Regions from separate parts of the Homo sapiens genome. Here region 1 is linked to region 2. Evidence: fine-mapped expression QTL. Tissue or cell type: whole blood. Region 2 holds a variant in brackets; the other region holds the start of a gene. All regions are shown on one strand. Distances are between the middles of the regions.

Region 1 (6,315 bases), 170 kb after region 2:
CCATACTTAGAAACCATCATTCACTTTTCCCTCATATATTCTGCCATCATCTTAATCCAAATCACCATTATCTCCTGTTTATGGTGCTGGATTAACCTCCTAACCATGATCCGGTCTCTGCCCATCTTTCCAGACTCATCTCATACAACTGTCCTTTCTAAATATATTCCAGCTATACTGGTCTTTCCTTAGATTCTTGAACATTAACATGTCAAGCTCTTTCCTGCCTCAGGACGTTTGCACAACCTGTTCACTCTGTTTAGAATGTTTTTCTTTCCCTCTTTTGCATGGTTGGATCACGCTCATCTTTTAGGCATCAGTATCAACTCCTTGGAAAGGTCTTCTTAGACCAGTCTAATTCACATAGTTTCCTTGTAAATTCTCCTTAATTCCATCCATAAAAGGTAAGTTCCATTAGAACAGGAATCTACCTTGTTCATCATTGGATCTCAGTACCTAGCAATTCTTGGCACAGACGAAAGAAGCATTTAACTATCTGCAGAATAAACAAATAATTACTTGGTGCTCTGTGATCCAGTCCTGTGGGGTCAGGAAAGGGTTTCTGATTTAAAAGGCTTTGCAAACTGACTAAGAATTAGCCAGGTCAGGGACAGGGTCAGAAGACGGTTTGGGGTGAGAAGGAGGATAGTGCACTTCAGGAACACAAAAGACATTCTATATGGCTGGAGCGGTGGAAAACCACTAGGGCTGAAGAGCCAGGCAAAAGTCAGATAGGAAAGAGTCTGTAAGTCATGTTAAAGAGTTTGGGCTTAAACCTGAGGGCAAATAGGAGCGACTGAAAGGTTTTCAATGGGGAGTGCCTCGGTCAAATATGAACTTTATCAGCCCAGCAATGTGGAGACTGGACTGGAAGGTAGCAAGATTGAAAGCAGGAGAACCAGCTGGGGCGGCGGGGGAGGGGGGGGTTACTGTCACAGCTATGTAGCAGTCATAGGGTCGAACCAAAATAATGTCAGTAAAAAACGGAGAGAAGTGAACAGATCTGAGATATTCAAGAGGCTGGTAGGGACTGGCTGGATGTGAAAAGGAAGAAAACTTTCAAGCTCTGGTTTAAGCACATGGCTCAGTTAAAATATGTTCCTTCTAAGCCATCATAGCATTTTGGAAGATCCCCTTTCAGCACGTACTACTCTGCACAGTGGCCCACTGAATACGTATTTGCACATTACAGAAGCAAGAGTCGCGCCTTTTCCTCTCTATTTCCGATTCTAAAAGCTCACTCCGAGTCTAGCTCGATGGCACTGTAAGTGTTCAATAAACGTTCGTTAGGTGATTGCAAAAGCACTGAGTCTAAAATAAAATAACTGACGTTTATATTCTGTTACCCTCATGGCTGCCCGTTTACAGAGAACCACTTGTGAAAAAACAAGCGCCGGGCTCTGGGTGGGTCTCATTCATAATGAAGTTAAGAGCCTCCTTAGGAGTCTCCGGCTCTTCGGCTTCCCGAGAACCCCTTTACCCAGCTCACCTGGGGGAGAAGACCAGGAACGGGCCCAGGCGACGCACAGTGACTCGGACCGGCCGAACTCAGTAGCACGCCGGCAGCCTTCCAATCGAATCTCCCGCGTCCTTTTCCGCCGGAAGTAACGCTTTGGCTCTGATTACTCAGAGCCAATCAGAAGAAGGCGCCGCAGAGGGTGGAGCTTAGCGAGGAAATCCTACAAGCATCTGGAAACGACCATTTTCGTCAAACTGCGGGTAGAGTCTTTCTCCCCGACAGGTGGATCAGTAGTACAGTCCGTAAAATTGGTTTTGGAGCTTCGCTGAGCCTCCTGGGCGTAGGGTTCCCGGGAAAGTGTGGAGTGAGCCGCAGCGCCCTGGGGTCTGGCGGGGTGACTGAAAGAGGGAATGGAAGCTGGATGAAGAGGGTTGAGGGAGCTTTGGAAGCCAGACCCGGCGCTGTCCTAGGGGCTAGCACTACCCACGGGCGGAGGGAGGAAGGGGGCGGTGGCAGGAGGCAGGAGGGGGGTGGAGCGCGGAGTGGGTTTTCGGGTGCCGGAGAAGAAAGGGGGCGTTATTTGAAAGAAGGGACCGGGACCTGGCGGGATTTAGGGGCGATGTGGACCCGGGGCGACCTGTGTAATGGATGGGTTGTGCGAGCAACACAGTTTTGGGGTGACCCAAGAACGGAGTATCATAGGGAGTGGTTAGGCTCCAGATGGAGGTGGGTGCAAGGAGCACAGTCTTTGGACCTGGACCCAGCGGTCTGCGACGACGTGCTCCGCTCACTGCTGAGTGATCTAGTGCAAGTTCCCGCACCTCTCTGAGCCTCAGTTTCCACATCTGTAGATGGGAATAACAATCATATACGACGCACAAGATTGCTGTGACGATTTAGTTAGAGGAGATGATGCGTGTGCCTCCCTGCCTCGTGATACACTGGCCTGTAGTGAACCTTCAATAAATTGTCATGGTAGCTGTTATTGCCGTTACGTAGGATTTGCGGAAGGCAGGAGGTGTCGCAATGGAATTGCGGTGGCCAGGGCAGGGTTTGGTGGTGATGATAATGGTAGGGATATTGGGTGACCTGAAGGACAGGTGGGCTTCGGGGGCGCTATAGATAAAGCATGGGCTACAGCGATGAGTTAGGAAGAGGCCCTAGCATGATAAGGGCAGACTTGGGGTGTGACCGCAATGAAGGTGAGTGCTAAGGAGCAGATGGCACGAGAGGAAAGTGGAGTGGAGGCGGTGTCCTCGGGGATGGGGGCGGAGTGGCTGTGGTGACCTGGCTTGGGCGGCGTCTCTGAGGAGCTGGCTGGCTTTGGGTTTCCCCTGGGAGGAGCTGTTTTGCGGCGGGCGGAGCTGCAGGCTGGGCAGGGCTTAGCCTGTGCGCTTCTGCTGGCCTCCTTTTCGCCCTCCCACCCGCACTGCAGTCTCCAGCCTGAGCCATGGGCCGCCGAGCCCTCCTGCTCCTGCTTCTGTCTTTTCTGGCGCCCTGGGCCACCATAGCCCTCCGGCCGGCCTTAAGGGCCCTCGGCAGCCTACACTTGCCAACCAACCCCACATCCCTCCCGGCTGTAGCCAAGAACTATTCGGTTCTCTACTTCCAACAGAAGGTAAGGGGGAGCGGGGGCTTCGCCGTCCCAGGCCCAACCGCCGGGAACCCTGACCCTCAGAGCCCGGGCAACGGAGCCTACCTCGAAATTCACACCCCTTGATGCCTAGGATCTGTTCGGTTTTTGGCTAACATCTTCCAGAAGGTGGTCCCAAATCCCAGTTCTGTTTAAATTTTCTCCTCCCATTACCAATAATTTGGTAGTAGTTTTGGCTGCATACTCTTGATTCAGGCTTTTCTGTAATTGGACACGACAGTCACTTCAACTCCCTCTGCTCCCAGAGGGTGCCCCAATCCGAACTCCCTTGACCTTCCCTCAAATTCAAATTATTAAATGCCAGCTCTGGTACCTAGTCTGCGGTGATAGTCATCCTTTGCCCCAAGGCAGCCCTAAATACAAATTTTAATATCTTTACCTATTAGAAAATATTGGATAGTTATCCATCCTAAAAGCCAGCCTCTCAGAAGGGGTCAGCTCAGAGCTGATTTTGTAGCCCTATTATTAAGAATTGTTGACAGTCCCTATTCCCCATAAGACTGAATGTATGTAGCCTATGCTTGTAAAAGGAGTTGTAGGAGTTTGTGGTGGGGGTGGGGATTAGCCTTTCTATGGTCTGTAACGTGAAATTAGAGGTTTTTGGGCTTGATGCCTTTGTGCTTGGCTGCAGCATGAGGCATTCCCCCACAGGTCTTGATGGAAAAGTACATCCTCTGTGAAATGACAAGTAATCCTTACAGTTCAGCATTTCTGAAAGCCTGTGTAAAAATAGGAAAAGATTTGGAAAAGGTTGGGATTAGAAAGAGTGCAAGGGTCTGAAGCTTGGCTTTAGGAGTCAGATAGAACCGGATTCCACCCTGCTAGCTCTGTGACCTTGGGCAGGTTACAGTACTTCTGTGAGCCTAGTTCCTTGATCTCTTGGGGTTTGTGGTGATGGTTGAATGAGAGCAGATAACGTACTCTTAGCAGAGTATCTGGCTTCAAGTAGGCACTCATATAATATGTGGTTATAGACCTATGTGAAATTTTGTTGTTGTTAATTGTGCAGAGACAAGGCTCACTATGTTGCCCAGGCTAGTCTTGAACTTGTGGGCTCAATAATCCTTCTGCATCAGCCTCCCAAAGTGTTGGGATTACAGGTGTGAGCCACTGAGCCCAGCCCTTATGTGAATTTGGAATGGGAATTTGTGGTAGAGGGATGTCATAGACTTCCAGAATAACTTAGAAATAATTTAAAAATTTTTTTATTTTTAAAAATAGAGATGGGATTTTGTCATCTTGCCTAGGCTGGTCTTGAACTCCTGGGCTCAAGCGATGCCCCTGTCTTGGCCTCCCAAAGGGCTGGGATTGCAGGCGTGTGCCACTGTGTCCCCAGCCAAGAAACAATTTTTAACCCAGACATTTGAGTTCAAGTTTATGAGGAAGAGAAAACATTTTAATTTTAGCAGGGGTACTAGGAAATAATCTTTTTTCTCAGGCAACTCCCTTAAATTAATTCTCTAGGGCATAATTCCCTCATTTGTAAATTAGGAGGGTTGGGACAAGGACCAATGTGTTTTACACTTTACTGAGGAAAATTAAGGGCTCTTTGGGGAGCTGTTTCAGAGGGAAAGTGGATGAAGGCTGAAGTGGAGGCCAAATTAGGTGCTCTAGTACCCTCTCTTGGATCTCTTTCAGCTTTTACCTGTTTTATATGCTGGGATTTTATATACAACTATTTGCAGAACTCAACTGCTAAAGTAAAACGGTGGGGAGGACTATTGGATTGGGAGATCTCTAAAATCCCATTGGGATTGATGAAAAAGAGAACTATCAGCAGAAAAGAGGAAGGGAACAAATGAGTTGTTAGTACCTTAGTTCCTAATTTATGTTCCTTTATTGTAGATTCTTTTCTTGGCCACTACACTCCTTAGAAATATAATTCAACACTGTTTCTTTTTCCATTTTTGATGATATGCAAAGTCCAGCTTTACTCAGCCACATTTTGTCCACTGGCTTATATTTAATTTATATTTTAGGATACAGATTCCACGTATGTATTTATTACCATAATAATAATTTTTCTTCTGTCTATTCCAATTGAGTTTTATTTCATTTTCTGAGGAAAACTTTTACATATGTATTTATTGCATAATTATAATTATACTAGTTGCCAATTTCTGAACCATTGATTTTTAGTTAGGACTATGTGTGAACTCAACTTTAAGTTTTTAAGTTAGAGCACATGAAATACTTTGATGCCTTCTAGTAATAAACTTATTATTAAAACTGTAAGGCTTAGTTTTTTATTCAAGGTTTAATTTTTATTAAACTTTATAATGATTTACCTGTGGTTATATCTGCCCCAGTGACCAAGCTGGACCCAGCTGTCCTTCTATGTATATAAAGGATGTGGTTTTATGGAGTGGTCTCTAAGAAGGCTTAGCCCATGGTCTTATCCCTCCCCTGCTTAGAAATTCTTCATAACTCTGATTGCAGGATAAAGGCCAAACACCTTGGCATGGGAATCCATTGTTCCTTACTATGTAACCCTAGCTGGTCGTTCCAACTTTATATTCTGCCATAATTCCCCATCCCAGCTCCCACTTTTAGCAACCTAACAGACTCAAGTGACTTTTACTGTGTCAGAAATTCTGTCTGGAATACCATCCCTCTTCCCCACTATTTAAACTCATAATTCTATTCCAGCAGAAATGTCTCACCTCTTCTGCGAATCTTTGACTTCTTTAAGGAAATTTAGTTGGTCTTTTTTCATCCTGCACATTTACTATATTGTATGTGTCCCTCCAGCTCGTTAGTACTCTACAATACCTAGAAGAGCCTATAAAAAAGTATAAAGCACAAAATAAATAGTTGTTGAAAGAGTGAATGCATGATTATTCAAAAAGAACCTAAACAAAGCAAAGGCTACCATCATTTAATTGTCACAAATCATTTTTTATTTTTCTTTTTATCTTTTACTTTAATTCTTTACTAATTATTTTTTCCTCCTTTTTCAAGGTCTTCAAATATTGAGTTAGGTAGGACTATTTGATTTCTTTTACCTGAAATAACTGAATTAGGAGACCAGAGAGAGGATAGTACATCACTTGGGCACATCGAGGCTCTGGGTACATGTGTAGTATGTGTGGTATCAGTGTCATAAAGGGCTCTCTGGAATATGTGGCTTGTGGTTACAATGTTGCATGCTTATTACCTTGTACCTCCCACCTGAGCCCCTCAGGCTAGAATGTGAGTCCCA
Region 2 (5,627 bases):
GCCTTTTTCATTGTTGTATTCATGGATGACACCAACACATACTACTTCTGCTTAAAAATCAAACTCATTCATCTTGACTTGTTCCCAGAAACATGACACAGAAGATCATTTTTTGAAAAAGTATTTTTGTAATTACCATCTGCATACACCTGAGAGACTGTTTCTAACATGTTTTGGTCATTTTTAATCATTCTATCTGCCTTTCTTTGTTATAAGGATCTATTTTTAATTTTATTCACTCCTAACATAGAGGGGAAGTGCATACCTTCAATGACGCAAAGTAACTAGTTAATGTTGTTTCAGAATAATATGCAAAAGGGAAGGGAGGAAACAGCACAAAGTATATCATATTTTTACACATCAGACACCTTCAGGAAGAAAGGACATTTCTCATCTTAGTGTGACAGACTCTGAAAAAGAACACACAGCACTGTTTCAGTGACACAAGAAAAAAAGTACAGTTCATTTTGAGATACTGTGCAAAATCACTCAAAAGACAATTAACTTTGGTTTCAGTCACTTAGTTAAAAAAAAAATTTATCCATGACCGATGTTACTCTGGAATCTATTGCCAGACGTCAGAAGGCCTATCATCAATAATATCCCACCCCTCCCGCCTTTTCTGAGACACGGGCTTGCTGTCGCCCAGGCTGGAGCACAGTGGTAGGATCGAGGCTCACTGCAGCCTCAACATCCCGGGCTCAAGCGATCCTCCCACCTCAGCCTCTAGTGTAGCTGCAACTACAGGGGTACACCACCATGCCCAGCTAATTTTTTTGTTTAATGTTTTTGTAGAGACGGTACGGGGTCTCCGCATGTTGCCCAGGCTGGGGTTGAACTCCTAGAATCACGCTATCTCCCCGCGTCTGCCCCCAAAGTGCTGGGATTAAAGGCGTGAGCGACCGCACCTGGCCAATATCCCCTTTGAACATCTGCTTTCGCTGGTTGGTAAAAAAGTGTCATTTTAAATTTAGTGTTACTCCTTCAGGCTATTCCCTCTCTCTTCTTACTTGCAGGGCCAAAGCAACGTCTCTTTCCACCTTGGTCACCTTCCAACAACGATTTCTTCGGACGCCTTTGTTAATCATTCCTGTATGAAAAATCAGTGAATCTGAAGCTTTGGGGAGAGTGAAAGGGGGTTGGAAAACAAACGGCAAAACAAAAATGCATTTCGGAGGACTACCCCAACTCTGTGGGTGGAAGTGGGCTTCTCCGAATAAAGGCGAGGGTCGCCGCCTCGGGTCCTCGCACCTCAACAAAAGACACCAACTCTCTCAACTGTACTGTTAACAGATCTAAATGATACTCCAAGCCCAAAAGTAAACCGACTCTCTCAATCTCTTAGCTAAAAAATGGAGAAGGAAGCGTAGGGCCCCATGCAACCCCTTCAGGAGCTGAGACCGAGGCTCACTGGGCCTCTGGATGCCGCTTCCAGTCGGTCCCGCCCTACATCAGTCCCCAGCATGGCCTCCACCCTCTGGTTCCCAGGTTCGTGCCCGCGGCTATCCGACCAGATCGTCCTCCACCTCACCGTCCCCACTGAACCACCACTTGACTCCTGCGCACCCCTAAAACCTCTGCCCGGCTCCGCGGAATCGTCCCAGTACTCCTAACATGGCGGCCGAGTCCCCTTTGCTCCTTCACTCTGGGCGCGTCCCACTTGGAGCATTTTGGGCATTGTAGTTTCGGGGATTGCCTGGGTATCCCTTCAGGACGTAAGAAGACTACAGTTCCCAGAAAGCACCGCTCCCGAGCATGGCTATTGGGGACGTTTGGACAGAGGGATGATGTCATTGCAAAAGCCCCACTGCATTCATTGTGCTACGGTCTCTCCACCCCCTGCTGCTGCTGGGCTTGCGATTGCCGCTCGCTCCAGCTGAGCTAAGTGTAGCAGCAGCACCAGGGCAGGGACTGACTCCAGCCCTTGGACTCAGGACATCGCAGACCTTCCCTTGCGTGCGTGACTCATTCGCACATCCATTTCTGTTTATGCCTGGGGTGGGGAGAAAAATCCCAAACCAGGTGAGTTGAAGTGATTTATTCAAATGCTTCTACCAAGTTATTCCTCCCGCTTAGTTCTCAAGGCTTTCTTTTGGGAAGCTGTGAGCGGTGGGGAGGTGGGGGGGATTGGGGAGAGGCTTGCAGGCACAGCTAAGGGGAAAAGCTCTGTGCCATTTGGGTCACTGCAAAGAACAACTCCAGCAACCTTCCCCCGCCAGAGGACGGGTGCCTGCCAATTCCCTAGTCGCAACTCCTCTCAACCTTTTTGAGGCGGAGAGAGGGGGCTGGGCTGGGAAGGATGTTGGGGAGTGCTCTTGGAAAATCTGAGGAAGGCAGAGGTGGGGGACTGCAGTCCTGTCACACACGGCCCGAGAGCTGAGGTTTGAGTGGGAAGGGGTGATGCGTGGGGAGAAATGGAGACAGTGAATTAATGTGGTCGCACTACTTTAGAACATTTGAATGTCGCTTGGACGAGCACTAGTTATTAATTTTTAAGATGAACGTGCTTAAGTTTTGTAGGGCTTTATTTTATGTGTGTATGTCTATGTGGTTTGTCTCGCCTTTTCTGCTGATTTGAGGTGACAGTGTCCTTTAATGGTGCACTCCGTGCCAGTCAGAAACATTTCACGTGTCTGGCGAAGGTTCTTTCAGGCTGCTGGAAGCAGCGTTTTTGTTAAATGTTTTCCGTTCTCCGACTGCTGGATTCAAGATTGTTTGGAAGTGGAGCCGACAGATTTGTGCTTGTGTGTTTTAAATTACATTGCATAGGCTCTTTGCCACTGACAATGGTACCATAATGAGCTGCTGTTTCCTGAGGCATAGTCACTACTCACAAATAACGGTTTGAAGAGATCGATTAGGGAAGAGGGGTTCATTTTAACACATTAGAGAAAGGGAAAGTTAGAAGCGCTGTTAACCTTCATTT[G/A]CCATTACTGAAAGGTGCCCATGGAAGAGTGATTTTGGTTGTTTTGTTATTGTTGTTTTTTTAAACGAACTGACATTTAACAGGAGAGAAAGCATTCTGACTTACATGATGCTCTTGTAAGAGTTATAGGGATAATTAGGGCAATAGATATGTTACTTTGAGATAAACAGCTGGCTGGCTCCACAACAGATGGGGCCAGTCTTGGCTGAGAGATCTACACCCTTGGAAATGAATGGGCCTGGGGTCAACCACACCCCCTCTTGGAATGTCAAAAGAAGGAGAAATGCCAGAGTATTTGCTTAACTCTAGAATGCTAAACCTTTTCCTAGCTGAGTCAGACATGGGCGAAATTCTTTACTGGCTGTCTTCTGCTGCTAAGCCAATTTTGTTCATTTTAAATTCAGATCCTTAGGTCTCCAAAGTTGTAGCTGTGTGATATTTCATTAAATGCTGCTTGATGCTGAATGCAAAGGACAGTCCATTGTATGGGCTTTGTAGTAGAGTGATTTATTGGGATGCCAATGAGCAGCTTTTGGATTTGGGAAAAGATCAACAGTTAGCCTTTGCCTCTGCGTCTCTCTGTTGATGACGCTCTGCTCTTCTGGACACCCTACCCTTCTCTCCTGTACTTTCATTTCTTCCCCCCACCCCACCCCATCCCACCCACATCTCTTGAAATTCTGTTTATTTCTCTATCTCTCCATTTGCAGTTTACATTTTTCCTTTCTGTTTCAAAACCCCTCCTTTATCACCAGCATATCACATCTCTTTCTCTTCAATCTTAGAACACACTCCCTGGTCCTCCACTTCAACTAGGAACTCCTGGGTGGATGTAGACTATGTGAATATTTTTGCAGAATCCTCTTTGAAGAGAATTTCTTTGCCTTTTCTTTTTCTTGCAGTCTGTGCTTGGCAGGATGAGCAGCAATGAGCCTGACCCCTGGTCTGGTTTGTAGTTCCTGTGACAGACATAATTTAGCCCCAGCAGCATGTGAACAATGAAATGCTGCAGTTGGGCTCATGCCACTTTTCCTTTCACTGGCACCTGCCTATGGATTAGCAAGGTTTTTAAATGCTCTACATGAAATGTTCTCATAATTCCCAAGGAATAAGTAGTCTTCAAGTGGCTTGCCTTATACAATACATTTTTTTTTTCCTTATCCTTGCTGCAGCTGGTGGTGGGAAGGCTGATCTTTCCCCCCTCTTTCTTCCTGTTCCCTGTGGATTGCTGAGTAGCAATCCAGGTGGCCAAACTGCCCATTTGGTTTTTTGAAGATACTTGGAGGACAACAGTTCCCCACCCACCCTGGTTGTTTCTTCTCCTCTGTGCAGGAAAGAAGTTTGTTATTTTATTCTCTTCTCTTAACGGGAAGAGTGTGATAGTGGCTATATTTGTTTATGTAACAGCAGTGCTCCTCTAGGTGTGGAAAGTCTAACTGCTATCCATCTGGAGGCAACTAGTGTAACAGGCAGATTCAGAAGCTGTCCTCTTAGACCTTTTATGCACCATCTTCTCATTCCTAATTTTCTTCTTCTGAAATACTTCCTTACCCACCAAAGTTTCTTTTATTGTCCTAGGGAGGAGAAATGGGCTGAATGTAGTGTTAGATTTGGCCTCATCACTGCTGTCTCTGGGACCTTAAATAACTATTCATTTCTTTCTGCTTCGGTTTACTTATTTGCAAAGGGATAATGATCCTTGCTCTTTGGTTTACTGATGTTATAGCCCTCTATAATCTGGCCCCAACCTATAATTCTGACAATTTATATTGATTGAGCAGCTACCATGTACTAAGCACTGTGGATACATCAGTGAAAACAAATGCTTTCCCTGACTTCATGGAGCTTATATTCTAATAGGGGATATACTTAATAAATAATTGCAAGTGTGATGAATGCCATTTCCAAAAGGGTTGGGTAGGAGTGCCTGACATGGTACTTTCCCCTTGTCTAGGGTTATCAGGAAAGGTTTCCTATAGGAAGTGACACTTCAAGAGACTTGGAGGGTAAACGGAAGTAGTAATTCAGGATGGCAGTGGGAGATGCTTATAGTGGGACAAAGGTTTCTGGCAGAGGGAACTTCATGTTCAAAGTTCAAAGGGAAGAGTGGTGAACCTGAGGATTTGAAAGGAAGTTAGAGACAGAGCAAGAGGAGAAAGACTAGAATGAAGAATGAGGCTGGAGAGGTGGGCAGAGGCTAGAGAGTAGGCAGTTCTTTGAGCTACAGGTGTATTTTGGTCTTTATCCTAAGGCTAATGAGAACCTAGCCTGGCTTTAAAAAACTAGATGAATGGCATATGTAGGATGATATTAAAATATTATCCTGGCTGTTAAGTAGAGGAGATTGAAGGAAAGACTTGGTCAGAGTGAATGTGTAGAGACCAAGTAGCAAATAATTTTTGTCGTCTGTATGAGGGATGATGGTGCTTAGATCTAGGGTGGTGACAGAGGGTTTAGAGAGACACTAAGTTTTTTGTTTTTTTTTTTTGAGACAGAGTTTTGCTCTTGTTGCCCTTGCTGGAGTACAATGGCGCAATCTCGGCTCATTGCAACCTCCGCCTCCCAGGTTCAAGCAGTTCTCCTGCCTCAGCCTCCCTATTGTCTGGGATTACAGGTGCCCGCCACCATGCTCAGCTAACGTTTGTATTTTTTTTTTTTTTTTTGAGACAGAGTCTCACTCTGTCGCCCAGGCTGAAGTGCA

What was found. PIP is the estimated chance that this variant, and not a neighbour inherited with it, causes the effect.
Region 1: it holds the start of PRCP, and the variant in region 2 is fine-mapped to the expression of PRCP in whole blood (INTERVAL, PIP above 0.99).

The regions. Positions count from the first base shown.
Region 1 is chr11:82,896,997-82,903,311 of GRCh38, reverse strand. It overlaps PRCP (prolylcarboxypeptidase), which reads left to right and starts at 2,882. Exons shown (of 9, transcript NM_005040.4): 1 at 2,882-3,077. The coding sequence starts at 2,910. It overlaps DDIAS (DNA damage induced apoptosis suppressor), which reads right to left and starts at 1,576. Exons shown (of 6, transcript NM_145018.4): 1 at 1,490-1,576. It overlaps LOC124902602, which reads left to right and starts at 1,257. Exons shown (of 2, transcript XM_047427953.1): 1 at 1,257-1,264; 2 at 1,631-2,398. The coding sequence starts at 1,257. The coding sequence ends at 2,288. RefSeq lists silencers at 1,947-2,036, 2,087-2,136 and enhancers at 2,347-2,396, 2,677-2,776, 2,927-2,986, 3,107-3,156.
Region 2 is chr11:83,068,086-83,073,712 of GRCh38, reverse strand. RAB30 (RAB30, member RAS oncogene family) reads left to right here and starts at 1,816. Exons shown (of 5, transcript NM_001286060.2): 1 at 1,816-2,022. It overlaps RAB30-DT (RAB30 divergent transcript), which reads right to left and starts at 1,647. Exons shown (of 3, transcript NR_038903.1): 1 at 1,567-1,647; 2 at 909-1,090; 3 at 1-410. LINC02951 (long intergenic non-protein coding RNA 2951) reads left to right here. Exons shown (of 3, transcript NR_186233.1): 3 at 1,017-1,311. RefSeq lists enhancers at 1,374-1,863, 3,627-3,856, 3,877-3,926. The variant G/A (reference allele first, on the strand shown) is at 2,927.